2 separate regions of the Homo sapiens genome follow, and region 1 is linked to region 2. Evidence: fine-mapped expression QTL. A gene starts in region 2. The other region holds a variant in brackets. All regions are shown on one strand. Distances are from middle to middle. Region 1 overlaps ABHD2 (abhydrolase domain containing 2, acylglycerol lipase). Region 2 holds the start of ABHD2 (abhydrolase domain containing 2, acylglycerol lipase).

Region 1 (10,635 bases), 39 kb before region 2:
CACAAAGGGCTAATTTCCCTAGTACATAAAGAGCTCCCTCAAATGATTAGGAAAAAGACCAATGACCATCAGAAAAATGGTTAGAGGCCACCAACAGGCAGTGAACAGAAAAGGAAATAAAAAGAGTTCTAAAATATGAAAAGATACACAGTCTCTTTAATCAAAGAAAGACTAATTAAAACCACAGTGAGAAAACATTTTTCACCTACCAGATTGGCAAATATCAAAAAGTAGAACTCCTGATGTTGGCAACGTTTTGGGGAAATGTGCTCACAGTGCTGGTGTGGAGAGGCTTGAGGACAACAGCTAGCAAAATTTTCCATGCACATCCCCTTTGACCCAGTAGTTCCACCTCTAGGAGTTTATCCTATACTGACAGGTGCGCATCGTGATGAAAATACAGAAGCATTCAATGCAACATTGTGAAAGCAAAAGATTACAAATAAAGGAAACCTCTATCTAGGAGACTGGTTAAACAAACTATTTTTTTATGGAATACGAAGCAGTCAAGACATAAATGGAGGAAGCTCTTTCAGCACTCCTATGGACAAATCTCTGAGTGATATTTCACAAAGAAAAGATGGAAGGATAAACAAGAGCCGACTGACAGCAAGGGCAACACGGAGGGTACAAGGTCATAGGTTCTACTGGCTGATAAAAGAACCTCTGGGAAATGCAGCCAGGCTTCTTGACCAGGGTGAGCCTTGAGCACAAATGTAAGAGGAAGGAAATGATGCAGCTGCCCTGGAGCTTTCCGTCAGAGGAACAGTTACAAAAAGCTGATAGAAGCCACTGTTGATGGCTGTGGGTTAGCCCTGTTGAAATGGCAGCCCTCCCCTACGGTATGTGGGCACAGGAAAACATTTTCTCAGATGGTCAACAACTCCATCCTTGAGAAACCCCAGCTTAGGCACCAGACCTTCATCTTGTCCACAAAGTGAGAGAGCGCCACCAAACCATGCAGATAAGCATGTTCTAGAAAGTCCTACTAAAGCAAAGTCCATCTCTCTTTACATATAAAGGACAAATGCAAAGGACAGTGCTGGTGTCACTGCTTATTATTAGGAATGAACAAGATAATGGCTTTCAAAACTATGAAAGATGAAATGCATATTCAGAGTCCTCTTAATTTCATATCAATTTGAAATAGCTATAAGAAATTAGAAGCTTAAAAATCACCCATATCCTCACAAGCCTTGCAAAAATATTCTCATTTTTGTTTCCTTTTCATCTATATCTATCTGAAAGCAGAGTATTTACATAGTTACAACAATGGTGCTCAGATAGAGATATATAATTGTCTTCTGCTTTTTTCACTTATTCTCTATTTTTATAGATAATTAGTATGCTAAGTTCTGAACGTCTGCATAAAATTCTATCCTGTTTATTAGCTATAGTTAAGGGAGGGAGCAAACATTTATTTAGCCCCTTCTATGGGCATGTTACATAATTCAATTTGTCCCTTACAGCGATTCTTATTATTAGGACCCCCTTTACAGACAGAAACTGAGTGTCCAACAGCCTACTGCACAGCGGACCCTGCATTTGAACTCTGTGTGTGTCTGACCCGACAGCTCTTTCTTTCCCCTGCATTATCTTGCTGCTGCCTCCATTGTTGGATGCTGCTATTCCCAGTTTTTACTATAATAAACAATGCCAGCAAAACATCTTTACATATTTTGTTTTCATCTTTCTTGAATTTTTTTTTCATGTTTTTCAACTCCTGTTTAAAAAGTCCAACAGGATGCCTCATCTGTCTCCTGACTCCTGCCCCTGAGAGATGACTATTCTTAACTCCTTTAGTCGTCCCTACCATCCCACACTTGCCTTTATTTCTTAATGCCATGCTTATCCTGCTTATGCTGGTTCTTCAATTTCAGTTTTCAATAGCACCTATTGAACTTCCTACTCTGGAGGGTGCTAGCTCTCTTACGTCTCTCCTAAGACTTACATTTTCCCCTCGCCCATTCTTTTCAACACTGTTACAGCAACACTTATGGTTAATTTTCAGTGTTTATAAAATTATAATTATGGAAATATTAGCCACAAAGAAGTCATATGTTGTATTCTTTTTTGTGAAATTTTTTATTTTCCCTCAAGTTATCACTTTTATCATTTCCTCATCAGCTTAGTTTTCTATGTGCCAATCATCAATTTGTCTCCAGACTCTAGGGGACCTGTTAGTCTCTCAATAGTCAGAAACCAGTTTTGCTTTTTCTTGGACACACCACTGAGGAGTCCCTGTGCCTGTTCCCCTCTGGAAGGGCTTCCCATCCTGCCCCTTCACCTCTCTGCTGGGTCCTAGATCCCAAGGCCACACCAGATGCTATCAGACAACAGAGAAGAGAACCATAAATGTCCAGAAAGCATTCATCAGAAAGAAGGTGATTATGTTCTCTCAAATAAAGAGGCTGTGTGGAGGTATGAAGGGATTCCAGGTAGAAGGCATTGCAAATGTAAGACATAGTCAAGAGAGAACATGCAGTATGAGAAAATGTGGAGAGATCTGATGTGTCTAGAACACAAGGAATATAGGGAAGAAGGAGCGAGGGCTGATGCTGGACCTCGCCCTACAGACAGTGAGGAGCCACTTGGTTTAAAGCAGGGGCATGGCATGATGAATTTGTGCTTTAGGAAGATAATTTGGTGGCCTGCAAGATCAATTAGAAAGGGTAGAGAATGGAGGGAAAGCTATTGCATTCTTCCAGGTGAAAGCTGATGACGTCCTGCAGTGAAGCAGAGGCACTGAAGGAGAGATGGAGTGAAGGACAGAAGGAAGGAGGCCCACGTGACACAGGCTGCTGCCTGTGGCCATGATTATTCTCCTCTTCTCTGGACACAGGTGTGCTGCTTCTCAAGTTAGGCATGGGCACGAGCCTTGCTTTAAACCAGGGGTGTCTAATGTTTTGGCTTCCCTGGGCCACTTTGGAAGAATTGTCTTGGGCCACACATAAAATACACTAACACTAATGACAGCTGATGGACTAAAAGAAAAAGAAAATCACACAAAAAATCTCATAATATTTTAAGAAAGTTTATGAATTTGTGTTGGGCTGCAATCAAAGCTGTCCCAGGCCACATGCAGTCTGTGGGCTATGGGCTGGACAAGCTCTCAAGCTTGTCCAACCTGCCTTATTTTGTTGTTATTGTTCTGTTTCTTTTGTAGGCTTTTAGCAGCCTAAAGCCATGGTTTGTAGTTTCTGTCTCTAGTGATAAGCAAAAAACAGGGATGAGGAAGGGGCTTTACCGGACCAACCAGAAACAGAAACTGAGAACCCATGACTGTATTATCTCCCTTGGACACCCAAACCAATGAAATGGGAAAGGAAATGACCAAGTGCCATTTCCGGTAGCAGCCTGTAAGAGCCAGTGTGTGAGGTGTGACATTGCTCTTCCTGGCTCGGTGATGACCACGGAAGCAGGTGTTGAGATGTCACCTCCATCAGCTGGGGTCCTGGTGGGATGACAATCAGCAGAGCCCTCCTGCCCATTGAAATAAACACGTAGCATGAGTGAGAAATAAACATTTGTGGCTTTAAGATGTGCAGGTTTAGAGGTAATTAGTTACCACAGTATAAACTAGTTTACTTCGACTAATACGATGTCCAACTTAATATAATTTTGACAATATTGCCATATTTTCCTCTGAATATCAAATAATATTTCATGTTTTAAGGCTTCATTGTTACCAAGTCTTAACATTATGAGGTGCTTATTACATGTATTTCCTTATGTGGAATTTATCTAGGCACATCTTTTACCCACTTACCCACTGATGTCCTACTGACATTCAGGTGTGCTTGTGTGACCTTCGTGTACATTATGTCTTTTGCTATTTGTACAACTGATCTAGCTGATAATATTAAAATAAAAATAGCTACAATAATAGCAGCTATATTTACTGAACTCTTACACATGCCAAGTATCCTATAAATCATCTTACATGCTGTTCTTTTTTTTTTTTTAATCAGCATACTGAACCTATGAAATAAGTGCTATTATACCCATCTTACAAATGAGGAAATAGAAGCTCGGCAAGGTGAAGCCACTGGCCAGCAGGGGGCAGGGCTGGCATCTGAGCCCAGGTGGGTCTCACTGCTGATCTGGACTCTGGATTCCCGGGGGGCAACAGCTCGCTAACTTCACCCTCTCACTTGGGCCCCTGGATTTACCCTCTCAATCTTAGGGGAAAAACCTTCAATCAATTTGGCTTTCTCCTCCAGTTTCCATTTTTTCTCCTTCCTTCTCTGGTGTTTGTTTCCTGACTCACTTCTTTGGTTGCTATTGTGCTGACCTGTTTATTCACCTCACTCCTGAAAACACATTCTCAAAAATCCCTGATCCTTTCTGGCCAAGGTAGATGGCCTTTGGTCAGCCCTCATTCTTCCTGAGTTTCTGACACCCTCTTCAATGTTTTCCTTCTCTGGCTGCCATGGAACTGGAGGCTGCTGGTTCTCTCCCTACCTTTCTTACTGCCTGTCTCTGTCTCTTCCACCCTAGCCATGGCCTGCCTCAGCCATCAGTCTTTAGTGTCTCTCTCTGCCCACCCCCACAACCTCCCCTACCTGCAGCTGATCTGGAATCTACACATCTGGTCTTGAGCTCCCACCTAAGTTCTAATGCCATAATTGCACATAACCCTGTGCACATCCTGTGGACAAGCCCCAAGCTAAACAACTTTCCTTGAGAAAGCAGCTTCCCCATTAGAC[T/C]TCCCTATTTCTGTCAATGATTCTATTCTCTCAACCGCTCAGTAACCTCAGCATAATCTGTGATTCAGCCCTTTCCTCTGATGCCCAAGGCCATTCCATTACCCACCAATACCACTGATTCCACCTTAGAAGACCTCTGGAATTTGTCCCATCCTTCCCTTTCCAACCACCTACCACCAGTGCTCACAGGATCAAGCCCAAACTCTTCCTCTCTGGGAATTAGAGACTCCTCGTGATCTGATCTCCTCTTCCTCCCCCCCACAGACCATAGGGCTCTCTGCTACAATCAAACAGCTCTCAGCTCACCAGATCGTGGCATAGGGACCTGGTGAGGAGCTGGCCACGAAGCAACTATAGAGACCAGACCAGTGATGGGGCCCAAAACCCATTAGCAAACAAAATCAAAGGGCACAGTGAGCAAAGGGCAGACTGGGTAGCAGGGCCAAACATGATGCAAGCAGCACCAAGATCATTTTTGGGAGTTACAAGAGAGACAATCAAAGTCTAGCCAAATGAAGATCCATGGAATTAGGAGACAAGAATAGAGTAGCTGTGGTGACGGCAAAGCATTGACAACGTGGATATGTGTCAATGGCAGCAAGGCCTCTACCACCTTCTTATCCTGCTGACTGGTTGGAAGGCCCACAGGACAAAAGGACAAAGGTGGATGGGTGAAAAGTGTTGGCCTGGGCAGCAAAGCCAGTTTTCTGCCATGAGTGCTTGTTTAAATAATTGATTTTACTGGTTCATGCTCACACCAACATCTGTGCCTTCTCTCCTATTGTCCCATCTATCCAAAGCCAACTAATCTTTCAGGATTATGGAAGACCTCATCAGTCAAGCCACCACAGGAATATCCCCTCTTTCTCTAAATTCCTTTATCACTTACCTGAATTACTCACTCTGTCAATCACATGTTCCTACCAAAAGACTCTACTGAAGTTAGTGTGTACTGACTCTACAAGAAGCAGCAACCACAGGGAAGACAGAGAATTTTTAAGACAGTCTCTGTCCTTAAGCCTCTCAGAATACACTTGAGGTGTGACGAGAGATACATATGTGGAAAGTTATTGTTTCCATCCCTGTCCTTAGGTAAGAGCCAATGAGACAGAGACAGGTAAAAGTCAGGAGCTACTAGAAGAGCTACGATTTGAGAAGGCCTGAGGATTCTGACAGACAGAGAAGGTGGAAATGTGAGAAAAAGTATTGTGTGTGATATAGAAGGGGCTGAGTATGGTGTACAGACGGTGAACAGACTGGAAGAGCAGGTTACTAAATATTACTAATTGACTAATTTTTAAAATATACATATATATATATATATATGTGTATATATATATATGTATATATATATATTCACTGAGAAGAATCTTCCTTTATTCAAATCCCAAGGAAGGAAAAGTCCATACTGCTGTGGCTTGGCAGGTGTCAACATTTTAAAAAGCATTTATGGAGTTTCTCACTTTACATCAGTAAGAAATTACTGTTCAAGCTTTTGTGATCTGGCTGAAAACACCAGTTCAGGGTCTTGCCAGCAGGAGGATTTGGTGCTACATATCACAGGAAAGTCAGGTTGGTCATGGCAATGGCATTAGTACTCAGTGGAAGGGTAGAAAAACATATAACCTGCTGTTTCTCACAAATCTCTCCCTTCCTGGGAGGCTACAGATGGTTCTGGATCAACCACTGATCTCCAGGCAGGGTTCCCAAATGTTTTGGATTACAGACTCTTATAATGGCTACCTCAGAAGTTAAGCCATCTGGTTTGATGCCATGCACCCACGCTGACCCAGAGCCCTCACTCTATGATTAGAAACTGACAGCAGGTAGAGTTAGGGTGGTTCACAAGCTGCCACAATGGCTGACTCATTTCCATGGCTCACCGTGATACTACACTGCAGGCAGCTACCTCAGGCAGATGGAGGGCCTCTGAGGAGTACCCGGCCCTTGGTACTTGGTAGAGGGCACTTCTCAGTCTGACTACTGACAGTCATGGGGTAGCAAACAGCAATGGCATCTCATCCAATCATGCATAAAATCAAGTCTTCAAGGACTACAGCCTTCTGTATTAGTTATAGCTTTCTAGAATTTCATGGAGGGGTAGATTTCCTTATAAACTCAGGAAAATGCTTTCCTTAAGTAAACATTACACCATCTAATAAATTCTGACCCTAAAGCTCAGGATCCCAAACAGACTCCATTTGCAGGGAAGTATTCTTGATGCTGCTGAAGAAGACTGGGCTTCTAAAGCCAGTCACTTCACTCACTGTTGCTTCAGACAAAGAAAAGCGTAAACAGCCGTCAGCTCTTCACTCTCCACATCACTGCATGACACTGGCACTGAGAGTTTAGGAAAAATTCTTACTTACCCTCCAGAATATATTTTCCAAGTCAGTTTACTGTCTTAATTTTATTTTACCATAAAGTATATACTATTTTGTAGTACAAAGTGTACTATCATAGTGAAGGAGGGCATGCTGAGAAGCAGGCAGAGAAAAAGAACAGTGGAGATCAAAATTGGCAACCTCTGAATTCACAGGGTCAGTAAAACATGAGAGGCTGATAAAAGTTGGCTATCCTTAGAAATTCGAGACTTTCTAGAAAACAAGGTCCATTTCCTGCTCCCGGATAGTGGAGCAATTTTCAGTCAACCACACATTGAGAAGGAGTATAAAAGTAGATCTGATTCCATGTAAGTCCTGTAAAGCAAATGAGGTGTAAGCTAAAAGTTAAGGATGAATGGTGAACCAAGGTGGATTCTGAAATCGAGTCTGGGAAGGGGTGACACAGAGGGGTGACTCAAAACAGGACCTTACACGTGGAGCCAAGGCCCACTTACCGTCCACATGTACTGAATTTGATACCACGTGATGGAATCAGTTGTAGCATATACTTCCTTTTGGAAGACATATACTCCTTTTTTGGAGACATAGTAGGGCCCTGAAGAGTAAACTCAGGTATGATGAATAGGGCGGTATAAGGGTCATACATTTTTGGAAACCAGAATTGGTTGTTTTAAAGAATGCTCGGCACATAAAGGATGAGCCTTTTTCCATCTGAACTAAATCACGGGAGTCTTGACTATTTTGGATTCCGAACCTTTTTTTAGATCTTTCAGGCTTCGGCAATTCCTATAAGAAGGCATAAAGTCTCTAAGAAGAAGCTACAATCTGTATCTAGGTTAGAGAAGGTGGATGAATTCTGCAGCAGACTCAGACTTGGTGATCTTGATTCAATATAGGAGACCTCAAAGATGGCGGCACTTTTCTTCCTGATGTGGCTGGCCCCTTGCATAAATGACCTGCTACAGCAGAGACAGGGCAGGCAGGCAACATCCAAGATAGTGAGTAGTTGAGAGGGTGAACAACTTATCCCTGTTTGCCCTGGAATTCCCCGGTATTAGTACTGACAGTCCCATGCCCCAGTCCTGAGCAAACTGGAATGTTTGGTCAGCCAAGTAATAAAAGAGTGTCCCAGAGTCAGCAGTTTAACTTTCTTACTTTGACAGTTTTGGTTTGGGCTATTTCACCAGAAACATGAGCAATTTTAAGATGAAATTGCCTAAAAGTTTGACTTATTGAGGCTAGCCCTTAATATTTAGCCTCAATCAAGATGATTTTGAGTCTTCCATTTTTCAGGAATTTTCTAACAATATAAGTTTGCAGGTGAATATGCTCTGAAGGTCTGGTGGCTACAAAATAAGCACATCAGAACACTACAGTTCTGCCAATCACTTGTTAATAGTTTACCAGAAATATCCAAAGAAATATTTGCACAACTCTTTTTTTTTTTTTGACATGGAGTCTCCCTCTGTCGCCAGGCTGGAGTGCAGTGGCGCAATGTCGGCTCACTGCAACCTCTGCCTCACAGGTTCAAGTGATTCTTCTGCCTCAGCCTCCTCAGTAGCTGGGACTACAGGCATGTGCCACCATGCCCAACTAACTGGTTTTTTTTTTTTTGAGACAAAGTCTCACTCTTGTCCCCAAGGCTGGAGTGCAATGGCACGATCTCAGCTCACTGCAACCTCCACCTCCTGGGTTCAAGCAATTCTCCTGCCTCAGCCTCCCGATTAGCTGGGATTACAGGCACCTGCCACCATGCCCGGCCAATTTTTGTATTTTTAGTAGAGACGGGGTTTCACCATGTTGGCCAGGCTGGTCTCGAACTCCTGACCTCAGGTGATCCGCCTGCCTTGGCCTCCCAAAGTGCTGGGATTACAGGTGTTAGCCACCGCGCCCAGCCCTAATTTTTGTATTTTTAGTAGAAACGGGGTTTCACCATGTTAGCCAGGATGGTCTTGATCTCTTGACCTCGTGATCCACCCACCTCAGCCTCCCAAAGTGCTGGCATTACAGGCATGAGCCCCCATGCCCAGTCTGCACAACTCTTAAAACAGATAAAATCAGGTCGATGGAATTAAGGCTCTTGGCAATTAGGAATTTATCCTGTGAAAAGGACAAAGCTTTAGTGTTCAGCCAAGAAGGAAAGGATCTAAATCTGATGTGGAATGTCTGTGAGCAAGAGGGAATTAAGAGAAATTTAAGTCAAAGATAATGAAATTCTTTTCAGCTTTAACTTGCTATAAATAAATAAGCTGTGCTGGTTCCAGAATTTTTTTTACCTAGGAGGGGCCTAGGGTGGCAATCTGACTGGAAGAGAGTGTGTGAAGTTGCATTTGCCTGATGCTTTAAGATTGAGAAAACAACAACTGTCCATCTCAAAGCTCCTAACCCCAGCCTCTGCATTGGTACTGCCTCTGCAAAGAAACAGCTTTATAACAAGTAGGCAGAAAAGAAAATGGAAGAAGTGGCCGTTTCATATATGGAGTCCCGTGCTCTTTAGATCCAGAAAATAACTCCATATATTGCACTATCAGAGAGATTTGAATGAGTGCTTTTCTGTAGTGTATTTCTAATTATTTAATACTTCCTTGGTACACTAGGACAAAAATAGCATATTTTGCATATCTATGACAAATATAGTGTTCGTACACACAGAACTGAGCTCTTATTTGGGGCAGATAAAAGAAAAATGGATATTTACTGTTAAGAAGTATGTACAACAGCAATAGAGAGGGAGTTGGTACTGTTTGAGAGAAAAATCAAAAGTAGATTTGCTCTGCTTTATTAGAAATAATTAGGGGCTGGGTGTGGTGGCTCACACCTATAACCCCAGCACTTTGGGAGGCTGAGGCTGGAGGATCGCTAGCCCAGGGGTTTAAGACCAGCTTGTACAACATGGTGACACAGGTGAGACCCTGTCTTTACAAATATATTTTTAAAAATTAGCCAGCCATGGTGGTGTGGACCTTTGGTTCCAGACACTTGTGAGGCTGAGATGGGAGGATCTCTTGAGCCCAGCAGGTTGAGGCTACAATGAGCCATGATTGTGCCATTGTACTCCAACCTGGGTAATAGAGTGAGACATTGTCTCAAAAAAAAAAAAAAAAAAAAAAGAAAGAAAGAAAGAAAGGAGAAAAAAAAAGAGAAATAACTAGGAAGCACATTTGTGAGGAAACTGATTTTTAAAAAGTGCCTCTAGAAAACTTCCGTAATTAAAAAGCTTGAAAAACTGATCTTTTACAAATGCCTCCCCACGATGAGTCTCAGAGAAGTAGATCCTCAAATGCTCACTAACCAAGGCTGATGGATGACTAATTGGCAGGAAACTAAAGGTTTGGACACATTATGATGAGAACAGCATTCCAATTGGATTTCCGTTTGGAGCTTGTACTCCGGTGAGTGAAGAGAAAAAGGGAAAACCACCGGAGATGAATCCATTATGGTCTATGGAAGGGCCACAGGGCTCCTCCCATTCTCTTATGACTACCTGAAGCAGCTTCCAGGCGGACACGTCCAGAGAGGGCACCATGGCATAGGAGAGCCAACTGTAATTTTTGGCTTGGTGTTAGTGGGTATGCCCCTCA
Region 2 (10,635 bases):
AGCCTCTGCCTCCTGGGTTCAAGTGATTCTCCTGCCTCAGTCTCCCAAGTAGCTGGGACTACAGGCGCACACCACCATGCTCAGCTAATTTTTGTATTTTTAGTAGAGACGGGGTTTCACCATGTTGATCAGGCAGATCTCAAACTCCTGACCTCAGGTGATCCGCCCGCCTCGGCCTCCCAAAGTGCTGTCACTACAGGCGTAGTGACACCAAGCCCTGCTGTATTTCCTTATTTGAAAGAATTAAAATGTAGCAATCCATGTTGGGCTTCCTGATTTTTGTTTTTTATTGCCCTCATTGACATGACTAAGTAAACAGTACACAAATACATGCCTACAGTGACTGTACACATAGGGAGGCAATCTTTCAAAGCTTCTCTTTTATCCAAGATAAAATGAGAGGCTGAGGCAGGAAAATCGCTTGAACCCGGGAAGCAGAGGTTGCAGTGCACCGAGATCGGGCCACTGCACTCTAGCCTGGAAAAAGTGGAACTGATAACACCACCTCCCTCTCCTCACCTTATGTAACACAGTATCTGTGGTACAACTGACTAATAATGTGGGGGCTCTGCAATGAGCAAAGGCCAGAAGGTAAGGACTCTAGATTAGACTAATAGACTAAAGATTCCATTCAATTTCCAGGTGGCTCTAAACCAGACTCAGAGGTAAATAAAAGCAAGACGAAGGTTAAGGCACATTCAAAGGAAAGAGGAAAAAAAACCCGAGAGGCAAGACCTGGGAGCCACTGAAGACTATAAGACCATGTTTAAATCAGTGTGGTTATTTTAAACATAAGCCTAGCCATAGAAAGTTCAAATACGAAGAACCTTGAAAACTTTCTTCTTAGAGTCGGCATCAGTGGAACCCTTTGTTAGCGAGGCCAGGTCAGGCTCAGACCTTGGAAGTTTAAAGCGGTTTGGAGATCTTGGGAAATACTTTCAAGGACAGCAACAAAATTACGTGTGGGCTTGGGGAAGACGCTTTACAGAGGAGCAGGTGTGAGAGCTGGTTTTTCCTGGGGTGAGAGAAAAGAAGGGGTGAGACACTTAAAGCTACCCAAACAGAAAGTGCTGTGACAAAGGGCAGGCTTCCTCTTGGACGCCCAAAGGCAGGACAAATGGAGTGATGCTGTGGTGCAGGAGACGGGATGAAATGCAACAGAGATGCTGGAAATGAGGCCAGGCACGGTGGCTCACGTCTGTAATCCCAGCACTTTGGGAGGCTGAGGCAAGAGGATCACCTGAGGTCAGGAGTTTGAGACCAGCATAGTGAAACCCTGTCTCTACCAAAAATACAAAATTAGCTGGGGGTGGTGGCGTGTGCCTGTAATCCCAGCTACTTGAGAGGCTGAGGCAGGAAAATCGTTTGAACCCGCGAAGCAGAGGTTGCAGCGAGCCAAGATTGCGCCACTGCACTCCAGCCTGGGAGACAAAAGTGAGACTCTGTCTCAAAAAAAAAAAAAAAAAAAAAAAAGAATGAAAAAAGATGCTGGAAATGTGACTTGGGGAGGCCAGGAAGCTTCTCTGGAGAACAGAGAGCAAACGGCAAACTTTCCCTGGAAATGCTAGCACATTCTGCACAGACGGCAAGGCGAAGAAGGGCCCAAGGACCAATGCGTTCCTCACTCTCCAGTGCCCCAGCTCTCCCTTCTCAGCTGACCTTTAGAAGCTCCCCTGCACCTCCCCCGGGCTCTCACAGAAAAGAAAAATATTTGCCTCCAAATATTCACAAGATCTTTAAGATCTCCAGCAAAGCTGCTGCCTAAATAAGACTGTTTTTTAGCATCCTTAGAAACAGAAAACAGATATCTAAAATAGACGGCCTTCATAAAAAATGACGTGGAAGCTCTTTTCACACTGCCAAGAAATATTAAGTGAAAAAGGCAAGGTTCCAAATAGCATGTATGCAGTGTGCTACCATTTCTGCAAAAAGGGGTGGTGTACAGAATATGTTTAACGAATTTGCTTACAGATGTATAAAATCCCTTGGAAGTTCAGGGACCACTTCTGGAGGATGAAGAAATCGCTAATACTGGTTGCCTCTGAGGATCAGGGGTCAGGGGTACACACAGATGTATTTACTAGTTAACCTTTTGTGCCTTTAAAAAATTTTCTTTCATCATGTGAATGTATTGCCTATTTTTAAAAACTAAAATTTGAATTAAAAAATTTTAAAATTTCTATTAAAAACAATTTTAAAACAAAATAGTTTTTAAGCAACAAACCAAACTAATTTGTTAATCTTGTCAACTGTGTTCCTGGCACACACCAGATGCTTAATTTGTTGAACTTAATGAACCTCCACTTAAAGACAACAAAAGAAAATCAGAAACCAGGCAAATCCAAGGGTACCAACGTTCCACTTCTCTAAAAAGCTCTTCACCTGTCTGCTATTTATTGTGAAAGATCAGACAATGAGTCGGTGTGTAACAAGCCCCTCACCCAAATGGCCCCAGTCCACAAGCTTCAGGGGTAATGGTGGAGCTTATCGTCTGTCCACACCAACCATTTTACAAACAGAAAACATTCAATCCAAAAATATGATGCCCTGGACAAGACAACAAAAATCAATCTGCAGATATGAAAATCCTGAAAGGAGATAATGTAGCATCTGTATGGTATCAACAAAGAAACAGCAGCACAGGGCTTAAAAATGTCCTACTCATGCACTGGCCAAAAAGGCTGAACCATGAAAAGCTGCTATAAAATCCTGACACCAGACACATTTAAGAGGCACCCTGAACTTCTCATTGCTCTGTTCCTGGGGATAGCTTAGCCCAAGATGAAACAGAAAGGCTAAAGCAACTCATGCCCCACATCATCTATACTCTGAAACTGGTCATGGAGTACTCAAAACTCACAATGCAATAAAAATGGGAATACTGTAAGCTGTAGGTCATGGTAGAAATTCTGCCACACAAAATTCAATTATATTGGAAATGTCTCTCTCCTGGGGCTTTTAAAAGAGCCAGATTTTAGGCAAAAAATAAGACAGACTCTACCCCTGTCTCCCATAAGACCAAAGAAATTATTTCCTGCTCGGGGCAGGAGCTCTGAACAAGGGCAGTGAGAACCACTACAGAGGTTATGGGTCCTGCCGGAGATTACCAGGAAAAGGCGTAAATGCTTAAAGCAACGAGTAACAGCAAATGAGAAGCTCATCCACCAAAATACTGAGAAAAGAGAGTGAGAAAGAGAGAAAGGGGCCCATATTAATACACAAGCAAAGAAATGAAAACTATTATTCTAAAATGGCTGATCTCTAGAACAGCTTAAACAAAAACCGAAATTCAGAATCAACTCAAGAAAAATAAAGCATGAGAAGGTGCCATTTAATGAAGTGATAATCTTTGGTTCAATCTAGAAAACAAGTAAAAACAGAAGAGAAAATCAAAGGTGACTGGATTCCTGCAAAAAATGAAAGTGGCAGGCATCTTTTCATCAAAAGGGAATTGGCTGGCACACTGAGAGTGCCTATTTGTCAGACCCACGCAGGCGATAAAGGAAATGAAGGTGAGAGTAAAAAGGGAAAAAAGTGAACGACCCTGACTAAAATGAGAGGAAAAAGACCATTCCCTTGTACTTGCCATCTGGTTTATTTCAAGCTTTGGAAAAGAACAGGAAAAACACAGATAAACCAGTGAACCAGCTAGATTGCCAGCACGGATCAGTCACACACTTTTGCTTCTGCCAGGCCAGGCAGGCGCTGCTGGTGCTCCCCCTATTCGAATGACTAAGTAACTTCCTTAAATGCAGTTGACACATGATCCCTGAACTTCCGAAAAGCACTTAATACAGTGGCTCATAAAATCTTAATCTAAAAATGTTCATCCATTTAGAATCAAGCTGCATCACACTCATCGCTTGGGAGGAGGGCTGAAGAGAGGGAATACATATTTGGAAGGACACCATGGACACGGGTATCATCCAGGACTTTACCATTTCGAGGGATTCCCACCCCTCACTGCCTGCTTTTAACGATAATTTTAAAGGGTTCAGAGCCTAAGAAGAATGTAACTGCAAGGGGGAACTAACATAGAAACTAAATTACCTGAATCACAAAAATAAGTAAGGTATAAAATGCAACGTGACTTGGAAACCCCTTGCAGCTGTCTGTGTTAAAATGAAATCTGGAATATGTTAAATGAATTTGGGGGTGGGGGGAAGGGGACTGGGGGAAAAATTAGCTCTTGATAGAGTATTGGGTGGTGGATATGAAGAAAAATGTACAAAAAGGCAACAGAATATCATATCTAGCAAATCTATTGTGCTTACCCTGTGCCAGGTACTGTTCTAAATGCTTCAGATGTAGTAACTCCATGCACTTCTCAAAACAATCTTCTAACATAAGTATCATTATTATTTCTGTTTTAGAGGTGAGGAAACAGAGGCACAGAGAAGTTAAGTAGCTTGCCCAAGGTTGTACAGCCAGTAAGAGGCAGGGCTGGGATTCAAATCCAGGCACTCAGGCACCAAAATCTGTCCTCCTAACCTCTCTGGACTCCCCTAGAACTTAAAACACTGAGAATGGGCAAACTAAGCTTGGAGTGAAATAAGTCATGCACTGGCTAGATCTAAATACAGTCAAGAGATCAACCCTTAGTCATGGGCCTGTGATGACCAACCAGCCCTGTGACCACCCCAGGCCTCAGTTTCCTCACCTGTGCATTGAGGAGACTGAATGAGAGTCCACCTAATTAGACTTAGATAGAGATGAGCTCTATCTAAGGTGCCTTCAGCTCTAAAATGTCACAGTCCGTGCTGACTACCAGCTGTATATGGACTGCTTTCTGACTAGATGTTCAAAGATTAATTCATCCTAAAACACACAGCAAGGTGTGTTAAGATTCTTTCTCTGCCTCCTGACCTTTAGATTATTATGTTCTCTCTATTCCGGCAAATGACAGAGGGTAGTGAAGGATTTCTCTTTTGGACTCTGCTTAATGTGGCTGTAAGGAAACGGCCTTCGAAAAGCTCTGGGCACAGATCTTGTTGACTCTGCCAAACCTGCAGTCTCTCCAGGTCCCTCTGTGGAGCCTGTTCTTGGAACATGCCTTTGGATTTGGTTACTGGAATGCAGGTGAAACTGACAAACTGGAGGTCCAGCAACCAAAAAAGAGAGATTGGGAAGATTAAGAGAGCGGTCCATGGTAGTTCAAATACAAGGAGTTTCACAGTGGCTAAATAAACCTCTATCTTTTTGTATAATCCAGTCTCTTTGCTAACACCCACTCTTGAGAGCTGAAACCTCAAAATTCATTATGGGTGAATTCAACAGCCACTTGGAACCTAATGGACCCCCAGAAGTACTCTTCTCAAGCTAGGCATCAAAGGCCACTTAGAGTGCATTTGTGGGTAGAGAAGGCCCTTACAGATGGGTCATGCAGTCCTCCCTTGGGAGTCCTAAGCATCCGACACAGGTGGCTGTCATCAGGCCACTGCTTGGACATCGCCAAGGTCGAGGCGCTAGCTGCCCGGCCTGGCAGGCAGCCTCCTGCGCTGCTGGACAGCTCTAGCTGTGGGAAAAGCTCACGAAGGGCCTAGAACAGTGCCGGTCGCGGGGCCGAACTCGGTAAATGTGCTTCCAAGTGGGTCAAAAGCTGCCTTTCTAGAACTTAAACCCACTGGTCCTGCGTGAGCCCCTGGAGCCCCGAAACACAGAGGCCTCTCGGGTATCTCGGGCTGTAATCAGGCCCCTCGGCCCTCTCCTTCCAGGTGCGGATCCCGGACCTTCTTCGCCGAGCCTGAACCGGCAGACCCCTCCCCAGGCCCCTGAAGACCCAGGAGTGAGCACCAATGGGGGAAAGGCCGCGGTCGGGGTTGTCCCCAACCTCGGTTCCTCGGGCAGAAGGGGACAAAGGGCCTCAGGAAGGCGTATCCCCCGCCGCGATCTGGGCTGTCCCCACCACTGGGCAAGCCAGCCCCTGGGACCCCCACGGCGCCAGATGACAGGCCCCCCAGGATCCCCTCAGGCTGCGGCGTGATGGGCCGAGCTACGCCGGGGACCTCGGGGCTCGGAGATTCGGTTCGACGGGTCCGGGGTGCGATCCCCGCTCCGCGGAGCTCGCTCGGCCGTGGCTTTACCTGCGTGTGATTGACTACAGGTGCTCAGCTCGCCCCCAGTCTGGTTCCTGCAGCTCCCCGGCTGCCAGCGGCGCTCATGGATATACAGCCGGAACCCCTGGCCAGTGCAGCTCCCGCCGCTACCGGCCCCGCCCAAGTAACTGCCGCCACGCCCCTGACGACCGCTTCTGCCACGCCCCTAACCACGGAAACCGCTTGTTCATTGGGCAGTTCAGCCGCTTCTCCACTTGCCCCGCGCGCTCATTGCGTCTAGGAGGGGATCCATTGATCAGCGAAGCTGTTCCTCAGAGTGGAGGCGGGATTCTTAGGGGAGAGCTCCTCAGCAATTGGTTACATTTGACGGCTTTAGTCCAGGGACCCAGACGCTACTGGATAAGGCCAGCCCGGAGTGGGCGGGGAAAGGGGAGGAGGGCTAGAAGGTGGGTCGTGTTTGATGTCGATGGGGGCGGGGTGAAGAGACGGGTAATTGTGACCGCAAACTGCTTTAGAGGGCTGGGTAAGGTCAGCTGTCGACTGGGCTCAGAGGAATGAGGTCGGCTGGTAGCTCAGCTGCTGGTAGCTCAGCTGGGGCTCTTATGGGTCCAGGCCGACTGACTGACTCACGTGTACTCAAATTTCGCAGGGGTGAAATTTGAGGTCATATCCCGGGAGAGAGGAAGAAGGGTCGTGAGTCACCGAACCCGAAGGAGAGGAAAAGATGTGGAGGCAGCGGTCTATGGCCTCTTCCAGCTCCGGACGGGGGATGGGGACGCTCTGGGCAATACGGGCCTCAGTTATTGTCCCACTGTCCTTTCAACCCTTAACCAACCCAGTTGGAGGCCGCCTGGAAGAATGTAGCCTTGGAACTAGGGCCTGGAATTGGGGCTCCTACCGGTTGTGTGGGCTTGGGCAAGTCACTTAACCTTCCCGCATGCTCCCTTCACTTGGCAACTGAGGGTAACAATAGTAGTTGATGAGAAGATTAAATAAACTCTGATAAATGCCAACAGTGGCTGGCACTCAACAGGCATTCAATCAAGGCTGATTCTTCCCCCATCACCCACTCACCTCATCCGGCTGGGAAACTAGGCCCATTTCTAAAATTCTATGAGCCTGAAACTGCTTTTGCAATGGCATGTCGTGTACCAAGAATAGAACACTTGAGCGACTTGAAATGCAACCCCTGTAGGGCAGACAAGGCCACCCTACCAAGGCCCCATAGGGCTCGGAGAGAGGGAGCAGGGGATGAAATGAGAGGAGCGATTTAGTCAGAGAAGGGAAGTGGCATTTGTTACCATGTAAATTTTTCCCAACATATTTCAGGTTGTGACAAGGAACAGTGGGCTGGCTCAAGTTTTATGGAGCGTAACCAAATAACATCCTTTGAAGGCTGATCAGCACCGGACCAGAAATCATTGCATGAGCTCTATCTGTCAGAGACCCCTGAAACCCATTCCCCATTCTGAAGGTGTAGACATCACAGAGTGTGGACAGAAATAGCTTCTCAGGCCTGAATGTAGCCCCAGACCCTTTGTGTCTGTCTTTGAAAGAACTCACAGCCATGGTACATCAGAGTGAAGGAGAAGAAAGAATCCTTTGCCATTGCTCTATTTTTCATTCAGTTGTCATGTTACCTTGAAAAAAAAAGGTTTCATCTCAGTGTTTATATATTCCTCTGTATTCTCTTTCATCTTGGAAAAGAAAAACCCAGGCTTCAGTAGCAAAGTCTCTTAGTGATGAACCCCATCGTCCTGACTCTGAGTTAAAACAGTTTGGACTTCCAAAAAAGAGCTTTAGATTATCACTAGATAAGTATATAAGGTAATGCATATGTTAACTAGCTTGGTGTAGCTATCCCACAATGTATACATGTATCAAAACATGGACCGGTACAGTGGCTCACGCCTGTAATCCAACATTTTGGGAAGCTGAGGCGGAGCCCAGGAGTCTGAGACCAACCTGGGCAACATAGTGAGACCCCGTCTCTACAAAAAATTTAAAATTTAGCCTGATGTGGTGGTGCATGCCTGTAGTCCCAGCTAGTGGGGAGGCTGAGGCAGGAGGGTTGTTTGAGCCCAGGAAGTTGAGGCTGCAGTGAGCTGTGATCGCACCACTGCACTCCAGCCTGGGCCACAGAGTGAGACCTTGTTTGACAAATAAACATAATAACATGATAAACATAAATAAGTAAAGCATGTTGTACATCATAAATATATACAAATTTTGTCAATTAAAAATTAATAATAATTTAAAAAATAGGCTGGGCACAGTGGCTCAAGCCTGTAATCCCAGCACTTTGGGAGGCCAAGGCAGGAGGATCACCTGAGGTCAGCAGTTCCAGACCAGCCTGGCCATCATGGTGAAACCCCATCTCTACTAAAAATACAAAATTAGCTGGGCATGGTGGCACACACCTGTAATCCCAGCTACTCAGGAGGCTGAGGCAGGATAATCGTTTGAACCCAGGAAGCAGAGGCTGCAGTGAGATTGCACCACTGCATTCCAGCTTGGATGACAGAGTGAGACTCTGTCTCAGAAAAAAAAAAACAAAAAAGATTTGTCACTAGTTTTGGAGGGGTGTGTACACATATCTATGTACACATTTGGTTCTGATCCACAGTTTTCTGGTTCTTGTCTTTAAACAGTGCTGCTTGGTAGCCATACACATGGCTGCATGCATGTTACGGAAATAGGCCCAGCCCAATACAGGTTTGCTTCTGCCTGTGTTTGCTAAGGGAAAGTGAGATGTCTTGTTAGGCCCTGAAAAGCATGAAGTGGCTCCTGAGATCCAGGATGATTTCTCCAACTTGATTCAGAGCCACAAAAAGCAGCTGTTAGGAGTAGATTGCAGATGGGCTCGCCATTGTGTAAATGGCTTTTTTCTCCCATCTCAGGAACATAGGTTCAGCCACCAGTTCCAGAAAAGGACATCTTTCCAGTTCAGGAATTCTAAAACACAATTATGTCACAGAGGCTCAAAAAGAGGCACAGACTGAGCTCAGGAAGAGGAGGAAGAGTAAAAGGATCCGGGCATCTTCTCTGCAGCTCTGGCAGGCTTAAAGAATGATCCATTATCATTTCCCAGCACACAGAACTGTTTCCTTAATTGTCTCTGGTTTCTGTTTCCTCCCTTCTGCTTGCAGTCTTGCCATATTCTGTTTAATCATATTATTTCATTCTATAAATCATTTCTGAGGGAGGCCATTTAGGAGACAAAATGGACTTATTTTTGCCTTCAAGTTTAGTGGCCCGTTGGGATTGAGGATTTGGTGAGCCTTGGCCTGAGATAAGCAGGTGTTGGGATGTGGCTGTAAAGTGAATTTTCAAAACCGTGACAGTACCTTGTAATAAAAAAGAACAAGGGAGAGGGTATGCCCCAGTCACCTTCTGGGATGGCCAAAGCTGCAGGACTTCATTAAAGCAGAACTGCTTCTAACTCAACTGGGGCCTCTGCAGGATTTACTAACCTGAGAAAGTCAAGGTACTCTGGGAGACAGCAGGGAGCAGTGGTTGGAGCAGATAATATGTTCTATTTATTCTTTTAAGGAAAATCAGCAATTCACTCAGTTTGTCATTTTTGTTATTCTGTGTCCTCGGGGGATGGTTCAGAGAAAGGGGATTTGGAAGCTCTACTGCTGGGGATTGGATCCTGATTCCATCCTTCCTAGCCTTGTGACCTTGGGCGAGTACAGCACATCTCTGTGCCCTACTTTCTTCTGTAAAACGCAGAGGACAGTGAAGTGCTTGTCTCATGGGGTCCTTTGAGTGGCAGATGAGTTCACAGATGCAAAGTGCATCAAACAGTACCTGGCAAATACCTAAAAATGTTTAATAAATGTTTGCCACAGCTATTATAGGAGCCCATTTCAGAACCTTCCTCTAAGGTCCTCACTCATTTTCTAAGTTCTAGCCCTCAGAAGTAGTGATCACAGGATTCAGGATTTTTAGAAAATATAGATAGACTTTATTTTTTAAAGCAGTTTTAGGGCCAGGCGCCGTGGCTCATGCCTGTAATCCCAACACTTTGGGAGGCTGAGGTGGGCGGATCACTTGAAGCCAGGAGTTTGAGACCAGTCTGGTCAATTGGCGAAACACCGTCTCTACTAAAAATACAAAAATTAGCTGGGTGTGGTGACGTGTGCCTGTAATCCCAGCTACTTGGGAGGCTGAGGCAGGAGAATCGCTTGAACCTAGGAGGCGGCGGATGCAGTGAACCAAGATCGTACCACTGCACTCCAGCCTGGGCAACAGAGGGAGACTCTGTCTCTAAATAAATAAATAGTTTTAGGTTTATAACAAAATTAAGTGGAAAGTACAGACAGTTCCTATATACACACTCTCCAACACATGCAGGATTTTTTTTTTTTTTTTTTTTACACTAGCAAAATCTCACCACCTGGTGCGAGAAACTTTTCCTTTCGAATATGGTTACCAAAAACGGTTTGAGGACCGAGTTAAGGTTTTTGAGACTAGACCTCATCAGTGTAATCACTGTGAGGGAAATGGAAAGGATGAGGCTAAGAGAATAATAGTAAAAGCTGCAGCCTGGAGGTTCATAAAGTATTCCTGCAGT

Evidence for each region.
Region 1: its variant is fine-mapped to the expression of ABHD2 in whole blood (INTERVAL, PIP above 0.99). The same link has a PIP of 0.9 or more in neutrophils.

Annotation. Positions count from the first base shown.
Region 1 is chr15:89,123,123-89,133,757 of GRCh38, reverse strand. All of the region lies in intron 3 of ABHD2 (abhydrolase domain containing 2, acylglycerol lipase), which reads right to left. Among named protein-coding and RNA genes, the nearest start is that of ABHD2, 40 kb to the right of the region's middle. The variant T/C (reference allele first, on the strand shown) is at 4,710.
Region 2 is chr15:89,084,012-89,094,646 of GRCh38, reverse strand. It overlaps ABHD2 (abhydrolase domain containing 2, acylglycerol lipase), which reads right to left and starts at 6,191. Exons shown (of 11, transcript NM_152924.5): 1 at 6,084-6,191. It overlaps LOC124903573, which reads left to right. Exons shown (of 7, transcript XM_047433432.1): 3 at 2,406-2,471; 4 at 3,364-3,512; 5 at 5,715-5,812; 6 at 5,961-6,579; 7 at 6,706-7,086. The coding sequence ends at 6,920. CARMAL (coronary artery disease region linked MFGE8 regulatory lncRNA) reads right to left here. Exons shown (of 4, transcript NR_183882.1): 4 at 10,418-10,635. RefSeq lists enhancers at 5,532-6,051, 5,993-6,172, 6,783-7,428.